Regions from separate parts of the Homo sapiens genome. Here region 1 is linked to region 2. Evidence: fine-mapped expression QTL. Tissue or cell type: whole blood. Region 2 holds a variant in brackets; the other region holds the start of a gene. All regions are shown on one strand. Distances are from middle to middle.

Region 1 (8,000 bases), 56 kb after region 2:
ACAGAGTTTTGATTTTCTTGCCCAGGTTGGAGTGCAGTGGCGCGATCTCAGCTCATTGCAACCTCCACCTCCTGGGTTCAAGTGATTCCCCTGCTTCAGCCTCCCATAGCTGGGATTACAGGTGTGCACCACCACGGCCAGCTAATTTTTTGTAATTTTAGTAGAGATGGGGTTTCACCATGTTGGTCAGGCTGTGGCCCCACAGTCTCGAACTCCTGACTTTAGGTGATCCACCTGCCTCAGCCTCCCAAAGTGTTGGGATCACAGGCCTGAGCCACCGTGCCCAGCCAGCCCTTATTTCTTTACATTCTTATTTAGCCCCACATTTTGTCTTTTCCTTCTAAGGCTCCGATGACATGAATATTAGATCTGTTGTTGTAATCTCACCGGCCTTTGAGGTTTAATTTTTTTTTAGTCTACTTTCTCTCTGTTTTTCAGATTGAGCATTTTCTATTATTCCATCTTCAAGTTCACTGATTCTTTTCTCTGTCCTTATTCTACAGTTGAGGCCTACCCAGTGATTTTTAAATTTTGTTTATTGTATTTTTCACTTATAAAATTTCCATTTGTTTCTTTTTTATGTCTTCAATTTCTTTCCTGAGATTTCTATATCTTTGCTAAAACATCTGATTTCCTTGCTGTTTCTTCATTCGTTTCAAGCATGTTCATAATCAGTCGTTCAAGCAATGTTACTATGGCTGCTTTTAAATCCTTGTCAGACAATTCCAGCATCTGTGTCATCTTGGTGTTTGTGTCTGCTTTAATTTTTTTTTTTTTTTGAGACACAGTCTCACTCTGTCACCCAGGCTGGAGTGCAATGGCACGATCATGGCTCGCTGCAGCTTCAACCTCCTGGGCTCAGGTGATCCTCCCACCTTAGCATCCTGGGTAGTTTGGGCCACAGGCATGTGCCACCATGCCTGGCTGATTTTTTTAAATTTTTTGTAGAGATGGGGTTTTACCGTGTTGCTCAGGCTGGTCTTGAACTCCTGGGCTCAAGTGATCTGCCTGCCTCAGCCTCCCAAAGTGCTGGGATTACAGGTGTGAGCCACCATGCCATGCCAATTTAAAAAAAAGTTTATTTTTTAGTAGAAACAGGGTCTCAGTATGTTGCCCAAGCTGCTCTCAAACTCCTGGGAATCAAGCCATCCTCCTCCTGCCTCAGCCTCCCAAAGTGCTGTGATTGCAGGCATGAGCCACCATGCCCGGCTGGTGTTGCTGTCTGTTGATAGGCTCTTCCAAGTTGAGATTTTCCTGGTTGTTGATATGACAAGTGATTTTCTATTGCATCTTGGCCATTCTGAATATAACTTTTTGAGACTCTGGATCCTATGTAAATCTGTTTTAGCAGGCCTTTCATACACTGTTCTGGTGGGGAGAGGGAGATTTCATCTCATCGCTGCCAGGTGGGAGAGGAAGCCCAGGTTCCATGCTTGGCCTCCACTGACACCTGGTGGGGAGGGCTGCCTCATTACTGATGGGTGAGGGAGGGAGTTCAGGTTCCCCACTAGCCCTCTGCTGACACCACACTGGCTGAAAAGGGGAGGGCCACTGTTCCTTTACTGATATCATGTGGGGACAATGACAAAAATGCCAGCTCCCCAAGAGACCTTCACTGACACACCCTGGAGGGGAAGGTGGGGGATGCAGGGGCAAACCCTCACAGCTGGGGTGAGGTTGGAAGTCTAGGCTCCCCACGAGGCCTCTGTGGATGTGGTGGGCATGGCACTGCAAGGTTTTCAGTGGCATTTGGCTGGAGTAGGGCAGTTGTTGTCTAAACATCTTCTGTCTTGCTAGGCTTCCCATTTCCTGTTTCTTTGGTTAGAGAAAGCAGCTTTTTCTTGGGGCTTCTATTGTCTCTGCCCATTGCATTTCCAAGTTGTTGACTGCTCCAGCATCCAGCAACTTGGAATCTATTTCCTACAATAGCTAGGATATCTGGAGATCTCTAGTCAGCCTGCCCTGTTCTCTCTACCTTTCAGAGTCTTCTTAGGTTTGTTTTACATATCATGTGTACTTTTTACTTGCCTTGATGGGAAGGAATAGAGAAGATAAATGTAGGTATTTCTTCTTGTCCCAGAAGCAGAAGGGTTATGCTTTTTTGTTTGTTTGTTTTTTGTAGTTGTTGTTGTTGTTGTTTGAGATGGAGTTTTGTTCTTGTTGCCCAGGCTGGAGTGCAGTGGCGCGATCTCGACTCACTGCAACCTCCGCCTCCTGGGTTCAAGCGATTTTCCTGCCTCTGCCTCCCAAGTCGCTCGGATTACAGGTGCCTGCCACCATGCCCAGCTAATTTTGTTATTTTTAGTAGAGATGGCGTTTCACCATGTTGGCCAGGCTGGTCTTGAACTCCTGACCTCAGGTGATCCACCTGCCTCGGCCTCCCAAAGTGCTGGGATTACAGGCGTGAGCCACTGCGCCTGGCTGGATCATGCGTTTCTTATGTTTTGAGTCTAATTTGCAAGTGGGAGGCTGGGAGACATTTTCTATCCCTGCGAAACAGAAGAAGTGATTCCTTTTCATTTTGTTCATTTTCATCCTGTTTTTCCTAAAGCCACATTACTTTCCTTTAATCCACATGTCCGCCTCAGCACATGTCACCATGTGCTGTGTTTGGGACGTAGTAAATAGTCCAAAGAGCCAGGCCGGGGTGGAAGCTGTGATTTTGACGGGATTGACAGTAGACTGAGAACTTTGAACTTTTAGCCTTGGGGAACAATTTTATGTGTTTATTCTACAATGATGATCACTGGTGATTTGTCCAAAACATATTATAAGTGTGAGGTGTGGAGGCAAAGGAGTTACTGGAAGCTGGGGCAGGGCAGAAGCCCAGTGTATGAAGTTGTGCAGAGGACAAGCAAAGGACAGAGACCAGTGAATCGGAGTCATCCCCTGAGGCTCAACCCCGGGCACCGCCTCCAGCTCTTCTCCACCTGCTTCTAGGCAGTGAAGTCCTAGGAACTAGCAAGAAAGTCTGTCCTTAAGTTTGTGGGACAAGCATTTGTTGCACACCTACTATGTCCAAAACCCTGTAGAGTTAGGTAAAAAGACATCTTAGATCCCAGCTCTCCAAAAAAGCAAGGATCTAAGTGTACAGAGACTTCTTGCTTCGTGATTTCTTCTTCATCCTATTTATCCCCTTCTTATACCCACAGGACCAGACCTCACATGCCCTATCAGAGTCTCCCAGGTGGTTTTTCCAGGGAGAGAGAACATTAAACATCAAACAAACATATATAGAGAAAAGCCTCTCACCCAGGCAGCCTGAGCTAGCTGCAGGAGCAAGCATTCTTCTGACTTCTGAGACAGTACAAGGTGTGTCCAGGTGACTTACCTGTCACTGGGCAGCTGCCATGCGCACTCCTCACACCTGACGCTGCTCAGGGAGAAGCCAGGCAGCTATAATAGTGTTCTTGGCCGGAGAACATCTGGCCTAGCAGGCAGGGTGTCATCTATGAAGCTGGGTGGAGAGAAAGCTGTTGGGGAAACCAGCCCCACACCACCCAGCGGATACCCCGAGTCCGGCGGAGACAAAGGAGTTAGAAAGAGACAGAACAAGCGTTTAAAAGGCAGGTCCAGGGGACCAGAGCGTTGGAGGCTTGCTCACGGCCCAGAGCTCTGGGCTCCACCCAATTTATTGGTTTACAAGCTCTTTGTTCTTAGGGCAGATGGGAAGGGGAGGAAGGGATGAGGAAAAGGATTAATCAGTGAGTCATTCGATAAGATGTGTAACAGTGGCGGTTTCTGTGAATTTCCTTGAGCAAAGGCGTGTGTCTAAACTACTTAAGATCTTTAATGACTGAAATGGGTGGGAGTGGGTTTCAGGAGGAGCCAAGATGTTTGATTATACTCCTCTGCTTCAAGGGAGTGTTATCTCCCTGAGCAACCTGTGGAAAGCCGCTGAGCAACCTGTGGAAAGCCGCTGAGCGGTTATCCTCTCGGGGCATAAAGACAAAGAAGGCAATAAGGAGACTTTGCTCCTCAGAGGCCACCCGTGGCTTCCCATGGGTGTCTCACACAGGGGAGACCAACTCAACTGGCACCTAGAACTCTCTTTCCCACAAAAGCTAGGCTGGTTCTGATTCTTAACCTGCTCCAGCAGTGACACACTCAGTCCCACAGGGAGTGGACGACCCCCAGGAAGAAGATGATGTTTTGGAGGAAACTCCCCAAAGCCCTCTTCATTGGGCTGACTCTGGCCATTGCTGTCAATCTCCTTCTGGTATTTTCTAGCAAGGGGACTTTACAAAACCTGTTTACGGGTGGTCTCCACAGGGAGCTTCCTTTACATCTGAATAAACGCTACGGGGCAGTGATAAAGAGACTCTCCCACTTGGAGGTGGAATTGCAGGATCTGAGTAAGTTTACAATGCTAACCTGGAAGGTGTGTGTGTGGGTGTGTGTGTTTGGGGCACTTAGGAAAAAGGGATATGGAAGGAAAAATGGGTGAGAGGTCACATTTTCATCTCAGTCGCTCATTGAAGCATCTGACACTGAATTCTGTGCCTTCAAATGGGAGATGGGTATTGAGAATGAAGTGAGTAGAAGTGGAAATTAGAGCAAGCAGTATGGGGGAGGTGAGCATGTGTGTGTGTATGCGTGTGTGGGCTTGTGCACATGCATTATCATTATATCTACATATGTGCAGGCAACGAGAAGAATAAGAATCCCAAGGGCCATAGACCTGTCCTTAGGCCTATTGAAGGGGTGGGTTGCACCTCCACACCTGTGGGTGTTTCTCGTTAGGTGGAACGAGAGACTTTGGAAGAGAAAAAGACACAGAAACAAAGTATGTAGAGAGAAATAAGGGGGCCCAGGGGACCAGCGTTCAGCATACGGAGGATCCCGCCAGCCTCTGAGTTCCCTTAGTATTTATTGATCATTCTTGGGTGTTTCTCGGAGAGGGGGATGTGTCAGGGTCATAGGATAATAGTGGAGAGAAGGTCAGCAGATAAACACGTGAACAAAGGTCTCTGCATCATAGACAAGGTAAAGAATTAAGTGCTGTGCTTTAGATATGCATACACATAAACATCTCAATGCCTTAAACAGCAGTATTGCTGCCCGCATGTCCCACCTCCAGCCCTAAGGCGGTTTTCTCCTATCTCAGTAGATGGAATATACAATCGGGTTTTACACCGAGACATTCCATTGCCCAGGGACGGGCAGGAGACAGATGCCTTCCTCTTGTCTCAACTGCAGAAAGGCGTTCCTTCCTCTTTTACTAATCCTCCTCAGCACAGACCCTTTACGGGTGTCGGGCTGGGGGACAGTCAGGTCTTTCCCTTCCCACGAGGCCATATTTCAGATGGTCACATGGGGAGAAACCTTGGACAATACCTGGCTTTCCTAGGCAGAGGTCCCTGTGGCCTTCCGCAGTGTTTTGTGTCCCTGGGTACTTGAGATTAGGGAGTGGTGATGACTCTTAACGAGCATGCTGCCTTCAAGCATCTGTTTAACAAAGCACATCTTGCATAGCCCTTAATCCATTTAACCCTGAGTCGACACAGCACATGTTTCAGGGAGCACGGGGTTGGGGGTACGGTTACAGATTAACAGCATCTCAAGGCAGAAGAATTTTTCTTAGTACAGAACAAAATGGAGTCTCCTATGTCTAGTTCTTTCTACACAGACACAGTAACAATCTGATCTCTCTTTCCTTTCCCCACGCCTATGTGTGGTAGGGGCTGTTGAAGAGAGGTGGCAATCTCTGGGGCAAGGGCCTCGCTTCCATTTTGCGGTGTGCTCCTTTCATGAACTAATGAGGGCTTTGTTAGAGGACCTAAGATCGAATCCTGATGTGCCATTGTGGTTGTGTGACTTTGAGCAAGTGCTTCTCTCTCTCAGCCTCAGGTTCCTGGTCTGTAAATGGAGATGATGATAACAATAGTGATAGTTATCAACCTGACCTAATAGGGTTGTGAAGTAGATGCAGAAGGTGATCTATAAACTGCTCTGTGCCAAATTTTAACCTCCTCATTTAAACTTAAGGGTAAGATTTCAACACATTCTGGGGTTTGTTTGTGATTCCGGCTCACCATGGAAGTCTAATGCCTCTGAATTTTATGTGCCTGTGCATCCAACTTCAGCAAGGGAAGCAGCAATTTCCCCCTGCTCCCAGGTAACAGGGATCAAATGCTGGAACCCCATAGGGAGGTGTTTTATGTGTGGGCAGGGATGTGACTGCCCAGGTGTGTGCACATGGGGCTGGAGTTGGGGAAAGTGTCTTTTAAAATGAGAACTGAGCATTGTCAGGGTTCAGGGTGAGGCTGGGAGATGGGTGGAAGGAAAGGCAGGAAGAGAAAAAGGAAGGGAGAGAAGAAATCAGGGAAAGAGCGAGGAGAGTGAGAAGGGAGATGAGAGAGGAGAAAAGAGCTGGGACAGGAAAGGAGCAGAGAAGTGAGGGAGTCCAGGGAGAGAGAGTGAAAGAGTTTGTATGGAGACAAGAAGAAAAGAAGGGAAAGTGTGATGGGAGAGAAGGAGAGAATAAAAGGAGAGAGGAGGAGTCCTAAGGCACCCATAGCACCTTCCACGTCCTCCTTCATAAGACTCATCATATTTTATTATGGTACAGTTTTATGGAAAGCAAGTTTCATAAGTGCTGTTTCCATGAACGTCTCATTCACTACTCATTTCTATTCATACATCGAAATTCCATAGATGAATAAATGAGTGGGTGTGTCTAGGAAAGAGAGAGAAAAAGACAGGCAGACAGGGATGAAGGGAAGAGTGATACGGGGCAAGAGAGTGGATGAAACAGAGGGAAGATCATCAGCTCCACAAGCCCTGGCTTACCTGGGTGGGTCGGACATTGCCCATGCAAATATGCTTGGTGCAGCTTCACCAGGAGGATGCCTGTGTACCTAGGGTGGTGACCCCAGCACCACCCTCACTATTTGGCAGAGCACCCAGACCACACCAGGACTGTCTCACCCATCCCCAAGGCTCATCACACTGGCTCAGCCTCCTCAAGCCGTAAAATGGCAGGAGTTCTACCCAAAGCCCTGCTATTCTTTCCATCAGCTAGGACACAATGTGCCATGAGGAGCCAGCCAGAGCCATCTGGTTTACTCCTCTTTCCTTTTTTGCAAAGATCTTTCTTGTTATTCTTGGTGCTCCCACATTTTATTCGCTCTGAAATGTTGTGATGTCAGAGACTCACTACCACCTGAGTTGAACCTCAAAAAGTCTTCTGGGCCCTGTTTCTAGATCACCAATGCTTTTTTTTTTTTTTTTTTTCCACAGAGCTTCCTATAACTAAAAGCCTGTTTAATTACCCTTCATCCTGTTTGCTCATTGCCTCCAGGATTCCAGGAAGATTTAAAAAAATCAGAAGTCGGCCGGGCGCGGTGGCTCACGCCTGTAATCCTAGCACTTTGGAAGGCCGAGGCGGGTGGATCACGAGGTCAGGAGATCGAGACCATCCTGGCTAACACGGTGAAACCCCGTCTCTAGAAAAATACAAAAAATTAGCTGGGCGTGGTGGCGGGCGCCTGTAGTCCCAGCTACTCGGGAAGCTGAGGCAGGAGAATGGCGTGAATCTGGGAGGTGGAGGTTGCAGTGAGCTGAGATCGTGCCACTGCACTCCAGCCCGGGTGACAGAGCGAGACTCCGTCTCAAAAAAAAAAAAAAAAAAAAAAAAAAATCAGAAGTCAATAAGGATACTTAGTTGAATCATGTAAGCTACCAAGAGCAAATGCAAACAATAATAATTATATCCCTATTGAGGGAGGGATCAATGACTCTAAGCCAGTTTTCTGGAACCTCCCTCAGGGTTCATAAAAGCCCCACTAGGGGAATGTCAATGGATGTGTCTGTTTTGGGGCTTGGAAAGTTTCAGTATAAGTTATGGGGATAACCTAGTGACACTGTATTCATACTACCGGATTGTGCATTTCCTCAAATTGACTTTAGGATGGCCAGGTCCAAACCAGCTCCCACTGATAGCCATGAGTGAAAGAGAAAATCAGATATCCCCCCAAGGAAGAACGCAGAGGAGCTCA
Region 2 (8,252 bases):
TCTGCCCAAACATTCATAAAATCATCAGAATTTCATGACTGGAAGGGAATGGGAGGTGTCAATGGTGAGGAAGAGAGAAGAGTCAAAGATGTCCAGCCCTCTGGCTGAAGCCACTGGGTAGATGATAGTACTGTTGAATAAGATGGGAAATGCTTGGGAGGGACTAGGCTGTAGGGCAGTGAGTCTTAGCCTTAGTTGCACATTAAAACCACTGAGGGAGCTTTTAAAAATTCTGATGCCTAGGCTGCGCTCCAGACCAATTAAAACAATTTCTGGGGTTGCAACTTCAGCACCAGTATTTTTTAACTCTGTCTAGGTAATTCTGAGTGCAGCAAAGATTGAGGAGCACTATTTTACTTGAGAGAATGGAAGATGATTGAGTTTTGGACTCACGTTTCAGGTGCATTTCAGATGTGTGTCAATCTTCCAAGTAACTGGTATATAGGGTTTCTGATCCTGGAGGTCAGAAGAGAGGTCTGGGTTGGAGACAGAAATGTGGGAGTTACCAGCATTTGTTGTTAATTTAAGTGATGAGAGAGGATAAGATGGCTGAAGATTGAGAAGGTAGTTTCAGATTGGGCCCAGAACATACCAATGGTTAGTAATCTGGTAGAGAAGGAGGCACCTGCAGAAACCCAAACCAATCAAACAGAAAGACTAAGCAGGACATGATAAGGCGGAAGGGAAACCAGGAGAGTACAGTGCTAGGGAAGCCATGGCCAGACAGTCTCACAGGAGGAAGTGAATACTTATGAATGCCATTGAGAAGTCAAGCAAATGTTAACTGTAAAGTCTCCTTGGATCTACTGACATGGAGGTCATTGGTGATCTTATCAAGAATAGATTGAGTGCAGTGGTTGGAGCAGAATCCAGAATGCGGGTGCGTGAAGAGTGAGTTGGAACTGAGGAAGTGGGAATGGTAAGGGTAGGTACATTTTCAGGTAGCTTGACTGGCAAGAGGAAGATGAAAGACTGAGAGGATAGAAGCTGGAGGGGGATGTGGAGTTGGTATGTTTTTTTTTAAGGTAGAGGATCTACATTGTTTACATGCTGGTAGGGAGATGCTGGTAAAAAGAGTGAGGCTGAGGATGTGGAAGAGAGAGTAAATTGGACAGGTTCCTGAAAAAGTGAAAGGACATGAGCTCTAAAGCATTGAAAGTGGCACTGTTCCTCCCATCAGGTAAGAGAGGAGGAGAAAATTGTGCTTTATATACCGGGGTTTGTAGATTTAGTGGTGAGAACTTGAGGTGGTTTTTCCTCTACTGTCTTACATTTTCTCTTTTATTAGAAGGCAGAGTCATTTACTGGAAGGAAGAGAAAAGAAAGGGATGTCTGAAATTTGAATACAGTAGAAAATGTTTCAAATTGTCTCATGGGAAAGTAAGTTAATTAGAGGAAAACACGGTTTTTGGGAAATGTTGAGGGCCTGGTTAAAATTGGAGGCATGAATTTATAGTGGTACCAATTCATGGTTTTTATTGATTTATTTTCCTGCCAGCTGCTCAAGACAGTGGGAGTGCATGGCCCAAGGGAGGCCAATGGAGTTCTTCTAGGATTAGAATTTTGCCTGGTGGCTAGAGTAAAGGACAAAGGGACAAGGTAGTTTACAATATTGGCAAGAGAGTGATGAGAAGATGGTCTATGGAACCTAATCTGGAATTCAGAGGGAAGGACAGGAACAGTCGGAAGAGTTGATACAGGGGAAGCAGAATCAGTGCACTAGAGTTCTTGAGAAGGTTGAGAAACAGGTATCCCAGGAGCAGATGAACAAAGAACAAGCAGGCTGGAAATTGTAGGAAATGGACATCCAAGAGCAGGATGTCTTCATTTAATACCTCAGAAGAAGAGCAATTCCAGATGTTGATACAGTAGGTGGTGTAACCAAGTTAAGAGTGGTAGAGGTGGAAGGAAGAGGAGGTCGTTGGAGTTGAGCAGCTCAAGAACCTGAGAAGTCCAAGCCCACTTGGACATCATGTCACCTCCAGTGGTGGTGGAAGTAGAAAGGAAGACTGAATTAGGTGCTGATATCTTCATCGAACAAGAAGACTTGCCTAGGAGGCTAGTAGATGATAACAAGTAAGGATGGTACAGCAATTGAGATTAGGAGGATTAGTGACTCTATCCCCAACCTCCTTTGGATATGTAGGTACTGGTGACACTTCCATTATTGCAGCCTGCTGCCACCATACTGTCCTTTTTCTAACAGGCTGCTAGATGGTTGACACAAACCAGAGAATCTGTAAATAGAAGGAAAAATGGAGGCTGAAGAAATTCTACTTTGATTTTTCTCCTTCTTCAATGTAAGCTTCCCTTAAAATAAAAAAATTGGAAGAGACCCAACCCAATCTGTAAGGTGCAGGACATTTTTGTGGATTATATTTTTTAAAAGTTCTGTGTAACTGAGTTTTATGAATTACATGATTACCTTTATCTGGAGGAAAATATCGCCTTTGAAATACAAGTCATGTCTTAATAGTGGAAAGAATGGATGCTTTATTCACTTGTCTCTAAACTCAAAACAGGTTTGTTTGGTTATTGTTTAGGCTGTTGGAGAGAAAGTAGTGAGAGATGCATTTCCGGAAGCCATTATCGTAAAGCCGTCGGACATCTTTGGAAGAGAGGATAGATTCCTTAATTCTTTTGCAAGTACGTATTCTTTCTTAATGGTAGAAGAGAGGGATACTGATTAACCAAGTTGAAGCTGCTCAAGCTAACAGTTTTCTCTGATTGACAGACTAAGGATATATTTTTTCTTTCCCAGTTGCCTTTTCCTCCCCTAAGTTTATATTTTCATAGTCAATGTAGTCTTTGTTATATTCCATATCAAAAGAAGCAACTTAGATTAATGGAAAGAGCATGAACTTGGGAGTCAGAGACTTGAGTTTAAGTCTTGGCCCAGCTAACTCTGTGACCTTGGCAAATATTCGAATATCACATGGAATAGTTTCTCTATCCTAAAATCCCCTGTGTTATATGTATTGATTCTTACCCTCCTACCCACCCCTAACCCCAGACAACCACTGATCTTTTTATTGTCTCTATAGTTTTGCCTTTTCCAGGATATTACATATATGGTTAGAATCATTGCAGTATGTAGCCTTTTTAGGTGGACTTCTTTCACTTAGCAATATGCATTTAAGGTTCTTTCATTTCTTTTCATAGCTTGATAGCTCATTTCTTTATATAGCTAAATAGTATTCCATTGTGTATATTCCATTGTATTGGATATTGGTTTATCCAATTTAGATGTTTCTATCTTGTTTTTCCCCCTGTTGCTTGTGTCCACCTAACATCTGTAATAATTTCTACTTAAAAAAAATTGTGGCAAAATATACATAGTATAAAATTTCCCATCTGCTATGGGCTAAATTGC[G/GC]CCCCCTCATAATTCGTATGTTGAAGCCTTAACACCATTGTGAATTTATTTGGAGTTAGGACTTTTGGAGGAAATTGAGGTTAAATGAGGCCATAAGGGTGAGGTCGTAATTCAGTAGGATTGGTGACCTTATAAGAAGAGGCAAAAAGAGAGATCTCTCTCTCCCTGTGTGCACATACTGAGGAAAGGCCATATGTGAGGACACAGCAAGAAATCTGCTGTCTACAAGCCAGGAAGAGAGCCCTTATCAGGAACCAAACTGGCTGGCACTTTGATCTTGAATTTGCCAGCCTCCAGAACTGTGAGAAAATACATTTTTATTGTACAAGCCACCCAGTCTATGGTATTTTGTTATGGTAGCCTGAGCAGACCAAAATAGATTTTGGTACCAAGAAGTGGGGTGCTGCTGTAGCAAATACCTAAAAATGTGAACGTGCCTTTGGAACTATGTAAAGGTAGAGGCTAGAAGAGTTTTGAGGTACCTGGTAGAAATATGGACGTTAAGGGTGATTTTTGTAAGGTCTCAGATGGAAATGAGTAAGATGTCATTGGAAACTGGAGGAAAGGTGATCCATATAATAAAATGGCAAAGAAATTGGCTGATCTGTGTGTGTTCTAGTGGAAGGTAGAACTTGTGAGTGATGAAATTGTTTATTCAGCTGAGAAGATTTCTAAGTACAAAGTATTGAAGAAATGCCTTGGTTCCTCCCGACTGCTTACAACAGAATAGAAAAAGAGAGAAAGAGGAAATGAAGAAGGACTTGTTAAGCAAAAAGGAACCGGAACCTGAAGATTTGGAAAATTCTCAGCTTATCCATATTGCAAAAAATGAGAAAGCTTGTTTTGAAGAGAACACTAAGAGTGTGGCTGAACAACCATTTGATGAAGAGATTGTGGATGCGACTCACCAACTAACAAGCTATCTTGGCAGAAGCCAGGAATAGAGATGAGATTACATCAGCAAAGTCACCACCAGTTTGAACTAGAAGGGGCAGAATGAAAGAAGCCTGTCTGACTTCTGATATCCTACAGGACCAGACCACAGAGCTATTTGGCTGTGAATTTGAGCTATTCTTCAAGAAAAGGGAAGAATGACCCCAAAAGGGGTTCAGAGATGTTTAGAACTATCTCTTTGGTTTCAAAGGATGGGGCCATTGCCTCAGTTTAAACACCACATGGCCTTTGTCAGAGGCCTTGGAGGTGGGACCACCCAGAGTCTTGGAGGTACAGCTGCCTGATCCTTGGGGCTACAGCCCCCTGGAACCTTTGAGGTGTTGACCCTCTGCCCAGGAGAGCTATTGGGGTGGGGCTGCTGCCCCAGTAGGTCCTAGAAGTTAGAACTACCGCTTCAGTGGGTCCTGAAGGTGAGACCACCACCTCTGTGAATCTAGAAGGCAATGCATCTAGGCAAAGAAGATTATTGATTTTTAGTAGCCACCCTAATAGGTGGTGTTTCATTGTGTGTGTGTTTTTATTAGATTCTAAAATCTAATAGAATTTACCTTGCTAAGTTTTGGACTTACTTGGGAGTTGTTACCCTTTCTTTCTTACGTCTTCCTTTTAGAATAGGAATGTCTATCTTATGCCTGTCTCACGGCTGTATTTTGGAAGCACATAACTTGTCTGGTTTCACATGTTCATAGTTAGGAATTTTGCCTCAGGATGACCCACACCTTGAGTCTTACCTATATCTGATTTAGATAATATTTGGATGCGACTTTGGAGTTTAGAGTCTTGAGACTAAGACAAGATTAAGACCCTTTTAACTATTTGTAAGAGTACAGTTCAGTAGTATTAAGATATTTACATTGTTGTACAACCAATCCCCAGAACTTTTTCATCTTGTAAAACTGAAATTCTGTACCCCTTAAACAACTCTCTGTTCCCTCCTTCCCCCCAGCCCCTGGCAACTACCATTCTGCTTTTGGTTTCTATGAATTTGACCACCTCATATAAGTGGAATCATACAGTATTTGTCTTTTCGTAGCTGGCTTATTTGACTTAGCATAATATGCTCAAGGTGCATTCCTGTTGTACCACGTGATGTGATTTCCTTCCTACTGAAGGCTGAATAATATTCTGTGATATGTCTATACCACATTTTGTTTAATAAGCCATCCATCAATGGATACTTGGATTTCTTCCCACTTTTGGCTATTGTGAATAATGCTGCAATGACCATGGATGTACGAAATATCCCTGATTTCAGTTATTTGGTGTATGTACTGAGAAGTGGAATTCTGTAGCATATGGTATATCTATTTTTACTTTTTCGACAAGCCACCATAGTGTATTCCACAGTGGCTGCACCATTTTACATTGCCACCAACAGTGCACAAGGTTTCCACTTTCTCCAGATCTTTGTCAATATTTGTTATTTTCTGTTTTTTTTTTTTTTTATAATAGCCATCCTAATAGTTCTAAGGTGGTATTTCATTGTGTGTGGTTTTTTTGTTTTTGTTTTTGAGATTGGGTCTTGCTCTGTCACCTAGGCAGTGATACAATCACAGCTCACTGCAGCCTTGAACTCCTGGGCTCAGGGGATCCTCTTGCCTCAGTTTCCTACATAGGTGGGACTAGAGGTGTGTACCACCACACCTGGCTTAAAAAATATATATATTTTTGTAGAGACAGGTCTTGCTCTCTTGCCCGGGCTGGACTCAAACTCCTGGCCTCAAGCAGTCTTTTTGCCCCAGCCTCCCAAAGTTCTAGGATTATAGGCATGGGCCACCACGCCTGGCAACAATGTGGTTTTGATTTATGTTTTCCTAATGATTAGTGATGTTGAGCATCTTTTCATGTGCTTTTTGGCTACTTTATTATTTGGAGAAATGTCTGTTCATGTCCTTGGCTAATTTTTAAAATTGGGTTGTTTATTTTTTGTTATTGAGTTGTAGGAGTTTTTTTATTTATTCAGAACATTAAATACTTATCAGATATGTGATTTGTAAAATTTTCTCTCATTTTTTAGTTTGTCTCTTCACTCTGTTAATTGTGTTCTTTGATGCACAGAAGTTTTAATTTTGATGTAGTCAGGCTTATCTATTTTTACTTTTGTTGCCTGTGCTTTTAGTATTGTATCTAAGGAGTCGTTGCCAAGTCCAATGCCATGAAGCTTTCTCCTTTTGTTTTTGTCTAAGAGTTTTAGAGTTTTAGCTCTTAGGTTTAGGTCTTTGATCCATTTTGACTTAGTTTTTGTATATGGTATGAGGTAAGGGTCCAATTTTATTCTTTTGCATGTGGTTATCCAGTATGTTGAAAAGATTATCTTTCCCCATTGAATGGTCTTGGTGCTTTTGTCAGAAATCATTTGACCATATATGCAAGAGTTATTTTTCTCTATTCCATTGCTCTGTATGTTTTTCTTTACGCCACTGTTTTGATCACTACACTGTTTTGATTACTGTGCCTTTGTAGTAAGTTTTGAAATCAGAAAGTGTGTGAGACTTCCAAAAATTTGTTCTTTTTCAAGATTGTTTTGGCTATTTAAAGGAATCCCTTTAAATGTCATATGAATTTTAGGATGGAGTTTTCTATATTTTTGCAAAAATAAAAAGCCATTGGGATTTTGATAGGGATTGCATTAAATCTGAGATTGCTTTGGGTAGAATTGACATATGTCTTAGTCCATTTTGGGGTACAACAAACGTTGAGTAATTTATAAAGAAGAGAAATTTATTTCCAACAGTTCTGGAGGCTGGGAATCTCAAGATCCAGGTGCTGTCATCTGGTGAGGGCCTTCTTGCTGTGTGCTCACATGGTGGAAGGTGGAAGGGTGAAAGGGACAAATGCTATGTCCCCACATGGCAGAAGAGGAGAAGAGCAAGCTAGCTGAATGCTTCATGAAGCCTCCTTTATGAGGGCCTTAATCCTATTCATGAGGGAGCACCCTCATGGCCTAATTATCTCTTAGTTCCTATCACATTGGCAACATCTGAACTTTGGAGGGAACATATTTAAACCATAGCAACATCCTAACAATATTAAGTCTTCCATTCCATGAACTTGGGATGCCTTTCCATTTAATTGTGCCTTTAATTTCTTTCAGCAATGTTTTGTGGTTTTCAGCATATGTGTCTTTTGCCACTTTGATAAAGTTTATTTTTAAGTATTTTATTCTTTATTGTACTATTGTGAATAATTTCTACTCTTTTTTTTTTTTTTTTTGAGACAGAGTCGCACTCTGACACCCAGGCTGGAGTGCGGTGGCGTGATCTCGGCTCACTGCAACCTCTGCCTCCCAGGTTCAAGCGATTCTCTGGCCTCAGCCTCCCAAGTAGCTGGGACTACAGGTGTGTGCCACCACGCCCAGCTAATTTTTGTATTTTTAGTAGAGATGGGGTTTCACCACATTGGCCAGGCTGGTCTCAAACTCCTGACCTTGTGATCCGCCCATCTTGGCCTCCCAAAGTGCTGGGATTACAGGCATGAGCCACTGTGCCCGGCCTAATTTCTACTCTTAAATGGTTTAAAAAAAAAAGAAAAACAAACAAACAAAACAAAAAAAACTTTTTTAACCTAACATTTAAACTACTTGGGATTTGTTTTAGTTTATGGTGAGAACTAAGACATTATCTCACCTTTTTTTCAAATAGCAGAATAATTGTGCCAGCACCATATATCAACTAATATTTCCATCAGGCCCTTTTTCTGGGTTATCTGTGCTGTATCACTCATCTGTTGATACAGCAGCAGAACTCATCTAGATATTAACTAGATAGACAGCTCATCTGCCATATCAACAGATGAGTATCATAAGGAGGAAGAGTTCCATGTTTCTCCTTAGAATGGGTGCAGCTAGAGTCCAGTCTTGGTCGTAGCGATGCATTTAGCATTGCAGAGCAGACTAGTTGTCTAGACATTTGACCTCTTTTCTTTG

Evidence for each region. PIP is the estimated chance that this variant, and not a neighbour inherited with it, causes the effect.
Region 1: it holds the start of GALNT8, and the variant in region 2 is fine-mapped to the expression of GALNT8 in whole blood (TOPMed, PIP above 0.99).

What each region holds. Positions count from the first base shown.
Region 1 is chr12:4,716,534-4,724,533 of GRCh38, forward strand. GALNT8 (polypeptide N-acetylgalactosaminyltransferase 8) reads left to right here and starts at 3,867. Exons shown (of 11, transcript NM_017417.2): 1 at 3,867-4,355. The coding sequence starts at 4,145. It overlaps GAU1 (GALNT8 antisense upstream 1), which reads right to left and starts at 3,569. Exons shown (of 4, transcript NR_110112.1): 1 at 3,332-3,569. RefSeq lists enhancers at 2,988-3,983, 3,984-4,979, 4,980-5,975.
Region 2 is chr12:4,659,990-4,668,241 of GRCh38, forward strand. It overlaps NDUFA9 (NADH:ubiquinone oxidoreductase subunit A9), which reads left to right. Exons shown (of 11, transcript NM_005002.5): 6 at 2,544-2,646. Among named protein-coding and RNA genes, the nearest start is that of NDUFA9, 15 kb to the left of the region's middle. The variant G/GC (reference allele first, on the strand shown) is at 3,374.